2 linked regions of the Homo sapiens genome follow. The protein of the gene in region 2 purifies or fractionates together with the protein of the main gene of each other region. This does not show direct contact. Each region holds a gene or a part of one and is shown on either strand. Other genes may lie near its edges.

Region 1 (7,027 bases), on a different chromosome or scaffold from region 2:
GATTATATTGTCTGACAATTCAAGTATTTTAGTTTTAGAAAACAATTTCCTATTTAAAGTAAAAAGCAAACAATTTATCCATCTGATTGCTAAGAAGTTTTACATCTCCATTACAATTGTGTCTGCATCAAACGGAGAGTCCTTCGTCCTCAGTATGATTGTTACTGGCTGAGAACATACGGTGACCTGTGTTCTGAGTGCCTGCTTGGAAAAGACCTCCCTGTCATCTGCCATACTACGGGACAAATCAGTATCTACTCAAATTCCCACTTCCAGAATGAGAGGACTCATCAGGGGTTTAGGAGTTTGCAAAGCCTTCAAAATGTATCGTGCTTGAATTTTGACTCTTCTGAAATAGAATAACTGACAAATGCTCAAAAAACAAACTTGTTTAACTTTTACTGAAAAGGCTCTCAGTGAAAACTTGTTTTGAACTCTACTAGTAAGGTAGAATATTAGTTTTTCTTCCCCTCCACACCAGAAAAGGCAGTTTTCTCTTTTTTTTTTTTTTGGCATGCAGCATATATAAAATGTGATCTAGAATTGAAATTGTAAAACAGAATAATCCTCTTAAAGAAAATCAGCCTATGAACAGTCAGACTTGTCCTTCCATGGAAAACATAATCTAAACTTCTTTAAAAACTGGCCATATTTTTTCAGTCTGTAATTCGAATAATGAAGATGGCATAACAAATTTTTTTGCTTACTAGGAATGCGCAAAAGGATGAGATGGATACACAGGTTTTAAAAAAAAAAAAAAAAAGGCCACTGGGATATTTAGTATTTGTCCAGATGCAAAACAATTTCAGAATAACAAAATACACACCTTGCTTTAGGCCACGTATATGATACACTTCATAGATTCTCAAACAAAAGATGAAAATTTCAGTCCACATTAAACATTTTAAAGCATAACTTCTAATATTTTGTTAAAAATAAGTCAAACTAAACGCATAAATCAGAATTACCTGTTAACATAGTGGGGAAAGTAGGGAAGCCCTCCAGGGGCCCCGTGCCCCAAGTAAAAGACAAGGAGTTAAATTTTACAATGAAATCCACGTATACTCAGGCTCTTTACACTAATAATCAAAGTGGAGACCAACCAGTTCCTAAAGCATAAAAGAGTGATTTTAAGAAAATATCACATTTTGAGTTACGGTATATTCATCACATTTTTCCCTGTAATTTTCACTTTAACAGTGATAGTCTTAGCAGCAAAAATTTGCTGGGAATGTTAGGAAAAAAGGAAGCCACACATACCTACTAATTTAAAAATATATAAACTATTTTTTACAGAAGGGCAGGTTTAAAAGAAAATCCAATCATGATCTTTTCATGCCATTTTTTGTCAACTTTCCATACACACGCAGACGCTAACAAAGTACTGTGTCATATACACTGAAGTGTCCTGAAGATGCCTGTGAGCTGCTGATTCCAGCTGGTACCAGGGAAGCATGTGTGGCTAAGTTGCAACAAACTTAAATTTGTTCCCCTTAGTTCTTCATCTTTTTAAAAGCTGAATAAACTTAATGTCAATCGGGTGGGGCCGGTATTAACAGCATCAACCGCTTGCTTACTATGAATCATCCGCAACAGAAACCCACGTGCATTCTCCATTCTTAAAAAGTCAGTGTAAAACTAACGGCCACTTCCTCCCTAGGTGCCTACTATCGCTATGTCTGACAGCATCTGTAACAGGACAAGCTCACCTCTCTCTACACGGATTCATCCAAAGCCACACACTAGGCCAAATTCTCCCAGTGGAATCAAAACACTGGAAGTAGAGCAAGAACCTCATGCCAACATTGGCCCAATCACACCTCAGTGACTTAGGAGTTCATCATATTTGATCATAAAATTGCTCCCGGCGCCAAACCTTACACCTAAAGACTGTAGTTTTAAAAAGCCACTGTACCGTCCACAATTATTCTGACCACTCTTTTCTAAATGGAGAATGTGCTACGCACTGAAGATCAGAACACACACGCGGGAGCCCTTGGGCACTGACCCTGAGCCTGTACACAAGATCAGCTGGTACTAGTCTCAAATGATTCATGAGGACTCAGTGGAAATTTAAACATTCAATTCTGTGTATCATTCATGTGCCCAGAGTCTTCAAAGAATGCTCGTGTTAGTTACCTGACACCTCTGGAGAAGTGACAGGGATATTCGTGTGAATAACCATGGCTCCCTTCCAGACAGACATATGGAATCTTACTCTTAAAAAAGTAAAGATATTTCAGATATCAAATGTATTATAATATACTGCGGTCTAAAGTTAAAGGCAAAGTTTACACACGATTTTCTCTTCCATGACTTTATTACATGTTTCCTAGTGAATTCACACGGCTCGTGTGTCAAAGCTCCCAGGCACGTCACTTGGTCACAGTTTTCATGTGCGTGGGGTTGATCATGGTACAAATGCCTATGCGCATCTTTTTCTCGGATGGTCTCATTTGACTTTCATTTCGTAAGGGTTCACTCTCCATGGTGTAGATGATAAGCTACCACATTTGTGCTTTTAAACCCATTCCTGGCAATCCCCCTTTATCTTCATTTTGTCTTTAGGGGGATAAAGAAGTAACACTACCTCATGAATAGAAACTATGAAGCCAAAAAACTCCTTCACAAGCTGTTCATTTCTTTTTAGAATGAAAATGCAGGTCCTGAATTCTCGTGAAGCAGCCCACAGGGTTACAGGCCAATGATTCGAACGCTGAGGTGAACACTTAGTACTCGCATTTGAGCTTCAAAGTAAAAATAAAGCAGAGGACAAACGCCTGTCACAGCGTGGCAGCCCGGTTCATTTGGTAACAGAACAAGTCTCACACGTCGGCTGAGCCCACCGGAGAGAAGCACACAGGCCAGCTTCCTTCTGAACACAGCCAGGCACCTGTTCAAAAGCCTCTCTCGTGGTGGCGGTGGACCCCAAAACCCACGGGTTGGAAGAGCCTTTGGGAAAGCAAATTGATACCCTGATTGCAGTCCTTGAAGAAATCACTTAGGGTTAGTTTAATAAACGAACATTAAAAAATCTTCCAAAAATTGCATTCAAATGTATTTTACACTTTAGGCAGTTCTTAAGAAGGGAGAGTGCAGTTTCTTGACACTTAACATTTAAAGGTTTTATTGGCCACATTAATCTTCCTCACAAAAGTTTTAAGTTATCTATAAGTTCTTAGAATGTCAAAGAAGAGAAGAAAAACTGACTAACTTTAAGGGGCGGTGGAAGCAGCAGCAACTTGGCAATAATTCTGCAGCCGACTTTGCGTGTTCAGGCATCCTTTTTCTCCAGTAAAATTTTGTGCAACTCGTCTGCATCCTCGCTGGTTTTTACCCGAATCAACATGGTGACTGGCATGGTGGCATTCTTCTCGTCAATTGGTGGATTTGGAACACAGACGATAAGAACGTTATTCTTCCCTGTTCGCGTACATGGCATATTGGGTGGAATCAGAACGTTCAGCAATATGTTGCCTGCATTCAAACAAACAAAACCCATCAAAATTATAGAAGCTATAGCTCCACCAAAGGAGTCTGTAATATGCTAAACATTAAATGCTGAAATAACTTAATACATCTAAGACAGGGAGCCAACAGGACAGCACAAAATCAGGACTGGTTCCCTGAGAACTGGGAGGCCTCGGGGAGCACTTGCCCTCACTGTGAGGAGTGGCCTTCCGTCCTCCCTCCAGCCCGGGTCTCTGCACCCACACAGCGTTTCTCTCAGAGCCAGCAGCCTCGCTCAGAACCGTCAGCCCTCTCAACACTGTCCGTCTTTGCACTGAAGGAAGAACACGGTGGCACAACCCAGTGTCTTCACTGCGCCACACGGACAAAGGACACCTCTGTCACAGGCCGGCACAGCTCCCTGGGCAAAAGTGACACGACCATGTTATTACTCCCTAGTCAAGCCCACGGGAAAGAAAAATGCCTCCCTGGAGTTTCTGCAACACAGCCCCCTGTTCTCTACCACTACTGCCCGCTCCACCGCAGGCCTGCCCCGTCTTCCTCCTCCTCCGGGCACTAGGATCCTTGCAGTGGACTCTTTTCAGGTTAAAACTGAGGATGGACAGCAAGCAGTTAGTCATTACTTGCTATATAAAAAGGATTCCTTTAAAAGGTTAATTTCCCTTGGGTGTTCATTAAATGGTCTAATCTCTAGCTTCTTAGTCACATTTCTAACACAAAGGAAAATGAAAAATCATTTTGTTTACAGCTTCTAACACATTTATGTTTCCTTACACACTATTATCCTGGGACTCAAAACTATAAATAAGTAAATACAGGATGAATTTGGCCTGAATGCGCTCTGTTTAAAAACATATTAATAACCTTGAGTCAGCAGGGTAAACGCTTTTATATACTATGTGATGATGATTTTGTGCTAACTGAAAAAAGGTACCCACCTAAATTGGTGTCTGCCCGCACCAAAAGCTGTGTCTTCTGATTTGCTGTAGGTTTTAAATGCAGAGTACCTATGCCTTTCTCTTTAAACTCATTGTCTTTCTTGTAAAACAGTTTACACCTATGGAGAAAAATAATAGGGACCATCAAGCATTCAAGGACGAATCAAGTCACACAGTTTTCTAACAACCACTCTTCACACTTGTGTGGAAAATCTCTATTAAATGAGTACAGGAAGCTTCAGGATAAATCTTTAATTGATCCAAACAGAGCCTGAGCAAAAACCAGAATAAGAAAATCTGCTTAGAGATTTTAAAACTCCTCCCCATTTTTTCAAATTAAACAGTGGGCCCCATGAAACTTTTTATAACACTTTCTGAAACTGTGTTCTCAAGTCAGTCAAAATCAGGGCTCAACACCAACCCCCCCCCCCCCCCGCCCCCAACCCCTGCCATTCTGCTCCTTTGGCCCTGAGCTCAAGATCGCCGATCTGGTCCTCTAAAGACAGGAACAAATAAAGGACAAAGACCCTGTCCTATCTCGCCCACCTCTCCCTCCTTTTTTTTTTGTGGCCTATTTCTTATTTTAAAAATTCTCCTCGACCAGGTGCGGTGGCTCACGCCTGTATCCCAGCACTTTGGGAGGCCGAGGCAGGCAGATCATGAGGTCAGGAGATTGAGACCATCCTGGCTAACACGGTGAAACCCCGTCTCTACTAAAAATACAAAAAATTAGCTGAGCGTGGTGGCGGGCACCTGTAGTCCCAGCTACTCGGGAGGCTGAGGCAGGAGAATGGCATGAACCTGGGAGGCGGAGCTTGCAGTGAGCCGAGATTGTGCCACTGCACTCCAGCCTGGGTGACAGAAAGAGACTCCGTCTCAAAAAAAAAAAAAAAAAAACAAACCTCAAGGCTCTTTCAGTTTTTGATTGCACAACATTTTTAAATAAATTTGGAAAACATTCTTGGGTAGGGTCTAACTAATAACAAAGTAATCAAATATCTTCCCAGCCTCCTGTGCTATGCATCTCCTGAGGTTATTAATACAAAACCATGGCTCATGTATTGATTTATGTATTTCTTTTGAGACAGTCTTACTCTGTGGCCCAGGCTGGAGTGCAGTGGCATGATCTTGGCTCACTGCAACCTCTGCTTCTCAGGGTTCAAGCAATTCTCATGCCTCAGCCTCCCAAACAGCTGGGATTACAGGCGTGCGCCACCACATTAGGCTAATTTTCATATTTTTAGTAGAGACGGGATTTCACCATGTTGGCCAGGTTTGTCTGGAACTCCTGACCTCAGGTGATCTGCCTGTCTCAGCCTCCCAAAGTGCTGGGATTACAGGCATGAGCCACCATGCCTGGCCTCATTTGATTCTAATTAAAAAAAAAAAAAATCTTAAAGTTGGGTCACTCCTTTATGTCATGTGAGTAATGAAATTTAAACACAGAAGAAATTGTTGGCCTCTTTTAAAAGTTCTTGAAACTAACACCTGGGAATCCCACAGGATGTGGTGACCTGTTCATGGAAAACTGCTGGCTCATTATTCGGAAATTTTTGCATTACAAAAACACATCTTTGAAAGCTTCTGAAATGGCACAGATGTTTTTTCAGCAAATATCTTTGTAAAAACTAATCTCATTTAATTGAAAGGAAGATGAAAGTTTTTATAAGTCCTCAACAGGAAGGGACGGTTACTGTGCTTAACTTTTTGACTATGAGAAAATCCAGAAAGGCCAACCAAGTCTCCAGGAAGGGATGAGAGATGCCTTCTGAGGCCAAACCTGAAATCACTGACTGACTCTGCGATTTCTTTGTTGGGGAGGAGGAAGGGGAGGGAGAAAGACACAGGGAGAGAAGACGGGATGGAATGGGATGGGATGGGATGGGGTTGGGAAGATCATGGAAGATCCTGTCTCTAAAGCACTTTAAAAGAGCTAAAGTGACAGAAAAGAGTGAGACCTGCCCACCAGGACATTTCTAGAACTGGATTTTTAAATAAACTGGCCAAGAATTCTTTCCTGTTCCACTTGAGAGCAGGCAAAGCTTGACCCCGAGACTGGAAGCTCAGTCAAGTGCCGTGAGGACATTCTCCAGCCTGAAGCATGCCACCATGCCTGCAAAACACATGCGCCAGCAGGTTGTGGGGATTCTTACTTTTTGGAGTAAAAAGCATCTTCTTCTTTTACTTCGGTAACTACTACTTTGGGTGGCTCATCATTCTCTTCTTCATCTCCACCTTTTATAAAAATGACAATAATTCAGTAAGATTCCAATCCAGAGCTTAAAGAAGTGACTGAAGTTTTGTTACGTAACACCCTAAACCTCCACCGGAGCACTCCATGTAAACTGACAGACTAAAATGCACACTTAATGGGGGGGGGGGGGGATGCCAGAAGGGAGTACCTGCAGGATTTTAACTATTTTGTGAAAAATAAGAATCCCTTTTAATGGGAACATACCTCTTAATTCTAAAATAACTTCCAATATATAGAAAACCTTAAAATGGAAAAATCTCCATGCTTATGACAGAAAAAAAAAATCAACACTCTATATGCAAATTACCCACTGGAAAATTCCATCTCGGATGAGTTTTTAACACCTTCACCCCTGAATATTCCT
Region 2 (7,027 bases):
AGAAAGAAGGGAAAAAATGACCCTGGTACAAACTCTTCTGGATCTCAGCAATGGAACAGATGTCCATTGCACGTCCTCATGAATAGCTGTTCCGTCACCAAGAGACCAGAACAAGAGGAAAACGGGCTTAAATCTAAATAAACCCCTCATGCTATGTACAGGTTTGGGGCAAGGGAGTATTTCCTGACCTGAGAGTGGGTAAGCCCTGGAATGGTTATCTGTGGGATCATCTTCCAGAGAAGGGAGATCTTTTAAATAAAAAAAGAAGATGATGATAAATGGCCAGCTGAGCTGGGGTAGGGTGAGTGCTCCTATCTAGGAGGGGTGGAGGCAGGTGGGATACAGGGAGAGGCCACAGGGAGGCCATCCAAAAAGACAACCTTTCAAGCCCTATCTCTGGCTTTCTTGTGATCTCTGGGACTTCCTTTTGCGGCCAACTTCCAATCCACAGTGCTATCAATGTATGGCCCTGCTTTTATTTTTATTTTACAGTGTCTGTAGGGCCAGAAATGGATTCAATTGATTCAGTAGGGCCTGTGCGTTGGAGAACCACCATTCCAACAAACCCATTCAACTGACTCCAATGACAATTTGGCCAACAGTCCTGGATGTCGCTACCTTTGCGGTCTTCATGACAGTGACATAGGACCTCTGTGCCCTAGGGCCATTGATAGAAATTTTCCAATGTGCAGACATGTGACGGTGAGTCAGTCACTTGCGCCAAATCCCAACCCTAAAGACTGCTTCCTACTGAGAGGAAGGAAACGGTTCTCTACCACATCATGAGGCTTATAGAAACAGGGTGTACATTTTTTCCTCTCTGACCGGAGGCTTCTCTATTCCCCTCCTCTCCCTCCCTCAGGATATAAATGGATCTCTCTCTGGTCACAGGCCCTTGTTCCTGCTGAGTCACAGTGACCAGCCTCCCTGGATGGAAAACCTGCTGGTGGGGCTGGTACCGTCAGCCTCGGTCATGCTGGTGGCCTCGGCAGCCACTTCATCACAGAAGCACCCCCTCCCTCCCATCATAAACCCCTTTCCTTATTCGGCTGCCACCACTGCTGCCCAAAATGCAGTAATTAGAGGATGAGGGAAGAGGAAGGAAATATCTGTCTGCAGCTGAAGTCCTTCAGGGGCTTCTGTGATGGGAAACTTCAGTCCATGCTCCCTTTCGGAGAAAGTGGAAGGGAAACTCATTCATTAACAGTGGTTGATCACTTGTATCCCAAGCCATCACTTGTTACTCTATATACTTCTCTAGGATTTGAAAAAATTCTAAGTACATGATCCTTTTGTCTATTACATAATTTGAGCTATTAAAACACATTTTAAAACAACATGTTAGACACAGGTGGTGTCCTGCAAAAACTCACCACCAAGACAGACAAGCTATCGCCTGCACTCAAAAGTGAATGGTTGGGTGGCCCAGGAGTGCCAGGGCAGGCCCCACGGTCACAGAGCAGAGTGGCCCTCAGGGCTGGAGAAGCAGGAAGAGCCCAGAGCAGCTGAGAGGATGTTGTCTCCATTGCTGAGGGTATGGAACAGGGCACTGGAGTGAAGTTCCGAAAGGGCACAGGCTCTGCCATGAGGTTGCACCCCACCCTGAGCATGTATCACCTGTGCAGCCCGGGCCTCCTGAACCTCTCGGAGCCTCCTCCTCGTCTGTAAGTGATGAAAGTCCCCTGCACAAAGGCCTATGAGGACTGGTTCTGACAGCCAGGCTCTGTGCCTGGCATCAGGGAGACAGATCATGAAGTTTTCCCTTCTCGGTGCCTACATGGAGGGGTGCCCTCGGATGCCCTCAGCAGAGATCCTCAAAGGCCAAAGAGGAACCGGGGACAGGGTAATGCTGGTAAGGTACTGGGCATTTGACAGCCTGCTCTCCTGGAAACCTGTCTCTTGGTTTCCGGAGACCTCCAGACCTCCATCTTCTCTCCCAGGCATGGCCATGGCTGCCACTCAGCAGAACCCTTGTCAGGGACCTGGCACCGGCTGCTGGCCATGGAGTGGTGTGGGGGGCAAGGAGGGCCCAAGTGACCCATTTGGTGGGGAACAGGCTAGATGTGGCCTGAGAGGGCCATTCGTCATCTCCCCCAGGCTCATCGCAACTGTCTGGAAAAGGCACCATTAGAAGGCAGCAGAAAAATGATTACAGAAAAGTCAGTTCCCTCTGAGGGAGTTTTAAAGAACAAGCAAAAATGAACAAGGTGAGCTGGGCGCGGTGGCTCACGCCTGTAATCCCAGCACTTTGGGAGGCCGAGGCGGGTGGATCACGAGGTCAGGAGATCGAGACCATCCTGGCTAACACGGTGAAACCCCGTCTCTACTAAAAATACAAAAAAATTAGCCGGGCGTGGTGGCGGGTGTCTGTAGTCCCAGCTACTCGGGAGGCTGAGGCAGGAGAATGGCGTGAACCTGGGAGGCGGAGGTTGCAGTGAGCCGAGATCGCGCCACTGCATTCCAGCCTGGGCGTCAGAGCGAGACTCCATCTCAAAAAAAAAAAAAAAAAAAGGAACAAGGTGAAGAAGCAGATTCGCTCAAGGGGCAGAAACACTGGAAGGTTCTCGTCCCTGACAGTGGTGGCCAGCTTTTGGGGGTCTGTGGCTGGTTTCACAAGATGCCACACTAAAGGGGGTTCCTTTTGGTGGGCCCTGGGCTGCACTCAGGCCAGCACTCATGGGTGAGAACGATATGTTCTGGGCTGGTGGAGCCCGGAGGACACAGTGAAGGTGATGCGGGAGGATGCATGCAAGTTAGCATTTATCCATCGGTGGAAGAAGCTGCTCAAGTCCACCCCCCACAGGGCCATGCCCCAGTAAGTCATCTCTGGGTGTCAGTCTATGCCACCTCTGCCTTCCACCCCTTCCTGGTGGGCCCTTCTCCAGGGGGCACTGCCTGCAGGTTTCATCAAGTGAAGACAGACTTTTCATGCAAAAACAGAACTGATCCAAATAGGGCACTGCTGATATTTCACCAAACTCTGCTTCTACCCATTGGTTTCCTAATCCAGGCTGTCATTAAAGAGTCATGACCCACATTTTTAAAATGGAATACAATAGAATAGGAATTAGGAGGATGCACTGCCCTTAAAGAGGATATCATTTTATGGAACTTTTCTTCAGATGTGCATGTATCCCTCTCCTGGGTCACAATATAAATTAAAATGTGTTTCTTACTGTGGGCAGGGTTAAAAAAGATTATTCTAAGGTGACTTCCACTCAGTCCCTCCTACCCATCCCCAAATCCATGCAAGTACCATAGCCACAGCCCTTTCAAGAGCTAGATTTAGATCACCTAGTTTTATCCCAAAAAATCATGAAAGGGAAAGCTTATTCTCATTGTCTACAAAGGGGCTGGGCTCCTTCCCGTGCCCCTAGCAGGTGTGCAAGGAGAAGTGGAGACAGATCCAGGTGTAAGTCCAACTCAACTTGTGGAACTTGGACAAGTATGTTCCCTCCTCAACTCTGGTTTTTCCCACTCTCAAAATGTAAGAATTTCTGATTATAATGATCTTTAAGTTCCAATATCCTCTGCTTCTAAATATCCAGGATCTACTTATTTGCGTGTCAGTTTTGCCAGCTCTGAAGCAGCAGGTGCCTAAAATCTGCATTTCTATCTCCTGAATAATTTCATTATCAAATGTGCCATTCTGAATGAATGAATTCTGTTTTTCCTATGCCCTTTGAATGTATGAAATGAATGTATTGAACGTGTCTGTGTCCTACTGAATGTAATTCCATAAGAGGTTTCTTACTAATTTCAACCTGTTTTTCCCATGTCCTTATTTAAGAATATATTTTCTATTCCTAAATCTCTCATTTTATCACCTTTATTTTACAATTTGAAAGTCTGGAAGAAAAAAAGGAGTGTGATTTTCATCAGACTTACTTAAGAATAACTCCATCTACAGTTCAACTCCACTGTGCCTCCTCCTTCTCACATCCTCATACAGGGAGGCAATTTTCCAAGTTTAGTGGAAATGAGGACCCCTCATTAGAAGCCCTCCACCACACTCCCCCGTCCCTTGCAGGAGTAGGAGATAATGTATGTAAAAGTACTTTACAAAGGGCAGATTGATAATATCACCATAATAGGACTGTTACTGGGATTTGTGATGGGGAAGACTGTCCTTTGGTGGTGACTATGGTCATGGATCTTTTTTTTTTTTTTTTCCCCAGACAGGGTCTGTCACTGTCACTCTCTCACCCAGGCTGCAGTGCAGTGGCACGATTATGGCTCACTGTAGCCTTGACTTCCCTGGGCTCAAGCAATCTCCTTGCTTCAGCCTCCTGAGTAGCTGAGATTACAGGCACATGCCATCTCGCCCGGCTAATTTTTGCATTTTTTGTAGAGACCAAGTTTGCCATGTTGTCCTGGCCTCAAGTGATCTGCCTGCCTCAGTCTCTCAAAGTGCTAGGATTGCAGGTGTGAGCCACCACACCCGGCCTTGGTCATGAATCTTAATGTGGCTGCCACTTTTTCCCCATTATGCCCCCAACACTCAGAATAGTGCCAGGTCCCAGGCAGGGCTCATGGCCTTGCTCTTGCCAGAAAAGTCATGCTCTTGCAAGAAAGTCTGGGGTTGTTTGAAGGCCATTTGCCTTTGGGAACTCTACTTTATGTGACTGTTGACTTAGTAAGCACCTATGTAAATGCTGAGCTGTATTTAAAATCCAACTAAGTGAACTTCTCACCTTGAGACTCTGAACACAGACACCTGGACCTTCCTGCCAGCTGGCTGACACCTAACGCCATGCTGGGGGCTCGAACTGGTTTGCAGTCTCTCCCAGTCCTCCTGGGCGATCTGCTATGTTCAGCAAACTGGCTTCCGTTGGAGTGAACTTTTCTTCCCATCGTGCTTCCTCTTCGTTAGCCAGGAACTGCCTCCCGGTAAGGAAATCGGCTCTCTGGTTTCAGATGTTCTGATTTTTTTTCAAGGAATTTCTTGGCTCGGGAAAGTGGCCACCCTTTCTCTCTCCCTCATTTTTCTGAGCAGTCCATTTTTGTGGGTGGAGCCCACCTCTCCTATAAGCACCCAGGATAAGCCCAAGGAAGTTGTGACGGTCTAAAGGGTCAAATTTCACTCTCAATTTACACCTACATCTGTCTTTAGTTACTTTTGTTAGTTGGAGACATCCAATGTAAATGGTGTCTAACATAGTGAGTTTGCTTCATTGTAAAAAATCACCTGTAAGACCTAGCAACTTATGCTTCCAGTCCTTGGCTGTCATGGGCATTGTATTACATTTGTAAGCAGAAACTACCATATTTGCAAGCAGAAAAGCGAGTCATTTTCCCTTTAGGTAGAAAAGGTATGCAATATTGACATCCCCCAGAGCTGTGCTGTTTGATGCCATTGCCCTCCTGGGGAACTGAAGACAGAGAGAGCAATGGTGGGGCTAGAGAGAGAAAAAACAGAAAAATGTCACCAGAGTTTCCAGAGCTGTTAATTGTGTTCCTCTCCCCCCACATTCATCAGTGGCCTTAGTGACTGTTTTCTACAGAAAGGGTAATATCATGGGCTGTATGGTCAGGCCCTGGGCTATTGGATGCTATCCGGTACTATAGGGTGAGTGGAAGGAGAAACTGGAATATCTAGATGATCTTCCCCATTTCTCCAACAGCTCCAGGACAGCTTTTAAATTAGAACTGACAAAGGCTGAGGGAAGTTTTAGGTAGGTGGAAAGGAAGGTAATGTTTTTATACCTGCAATCTTTTTGCATAACAGATTATTTTGTTATTTGGGGTTAATAAAGGCAAAGAATAGGGTAAGAAAAAGCTCTTTTTGTCTTTCTCTAATGACCAGGGGAGTCTCAAACTCTAATCCAAGGATTTACGAATGAGAGAGAAAGGGATTTCAAGAAGTGTATTGTGATAAAATCTGAAAAACTAAAATTTCCAAACTGACTCTAAAAATGCCTTACAAGATTTTAAATTAAATGAGTTTTAAAAAAATTACCCCACTGGAAATCCTTTACTAGCAAAGATAGAAAACATTAGATTTTTCGTTATTGCTTTTAGCAAAAGTCGGGTAATCTGAGGAAATGTAAAGGCTAGGCTGTACTTTCTTGATATTAAGCGAAGTTTACCTCCTGCCACCTGCATGGAGTAACCAGTTCAACGTGGTTGAAGTAACCCTTCAACGTGGCAGAAATAGAAAAACTGAATTTTAAAATGCAATTAATAGAATTAGATAGCTTTGGCTGGACATGCTACTATCACTTCTGAAAATACTCTTGTTGCTTTTACTGCTTCTCCTAACCCCTCCAAGAATGGCAGACACCAACCATCAAGCCTTCCACTGGCTTCCTGTCCTGCTTTACAGACACGCACAGGCACACCTGAAATGAGACATACATACATTCCCTCGCTGGAAAATAAAATGAATTACTCCAGTAGGAAACAAATTCTCCAACCCTTCACCAATTCAGGCATTTACTAAAGATAATCTAAGGGGCTTTTTCTTCCTTTGCTTCTCAAAATTCCCCTTTAGGTCTCTGCCCCAGAGCCCCCTCCCGGGAAACCACATTTGCTCCACTGCACTGGCTTCCAGGCATGGAAGGGAGGTGTATCTGGAGACCTGGGAGACACCTTGATTTCCTTCCCCAGCCCCTTCCCGCAGAGCTGTGGGAGCAGATACTGACTTTTTCCTTCTGACCTCTCTAGGGATGCCTTTCCATTAGAGGGCAAAGAGGAAGAAGAGGAACTGGGTTAAAGATGGCCTCTGCTGAACACATATGTCAAAATCAGCTAAGCTAAACCGAATAGGGCCCAGTTAACCTCAACGATGTTCACCACAACAGAGCAGGCTGGAAGATTCCCCCACCTCTCAATTTTAGGTGCTTGCTTCCAAGGGCAGGCTCCCTTTGGAAGCAGAAGCTGAACTTCTGGCTAGGAGGGGCTATTCTAGAAGAGACCGAAGCTAAATCTGTGGCCCAGGCCTGCACACCTCCATCTGCAAGGATGTCCACTTTGAGATGCAGAAGATGATTCTCCCTGCCCGCGTCGGGGCCGACTACGAGAGGCA

What was found. Proteins that work in one complex are often made in the same cells at the same time.
Region 1: the proteins of DUSP4 (region 2) and NUP50 purify together in Homo sapiens (affinity purification with mass spectrometry, with the first as the bait; 2 studies listed by BioGRID). This does not show direct contact.

Annotation. Positions count from the first base shown.
Region 1 is NC_000022.11:45,180,903-45,187,929, reverse strand, and holds part of NUP50 (nuclear pore complex protein Nup50), read right to left. Parts: intron 6,645-7,027; coding exon 6,563-6,644; intron 4,529-6,562; coding exon 4,410-4,528; intron 3,478-4,409; coding exon 3,275-3,477; 3' UTR 1-3,274. UniProt on the Homo sapiens protein: Component of the nuclear pore complex that has a direct role in nuclear protein import. Actively displaces NLSs from importin-alpha, and facilitates disassembly of the importin-alpha:beta-cargo complex and importin recycling.
Region 2 is NC_000008.11:29,340,676-29,347,702, forward strand, and holds part of DUSP4 (dual specificity protein phosphatase 4), read right to left. Parts: intron 5,400-7,027; exon of another isoform or gene 4,855-5,399; coding exon of another isoform or gene 4,695-4,854; intron 1-4,694. UniProt on the Homo sapiens protein: Regulates mitogenic signal transduction by dephosphorylating both Thr and Tyr residues on MAP kinases ERK1 and ERK2.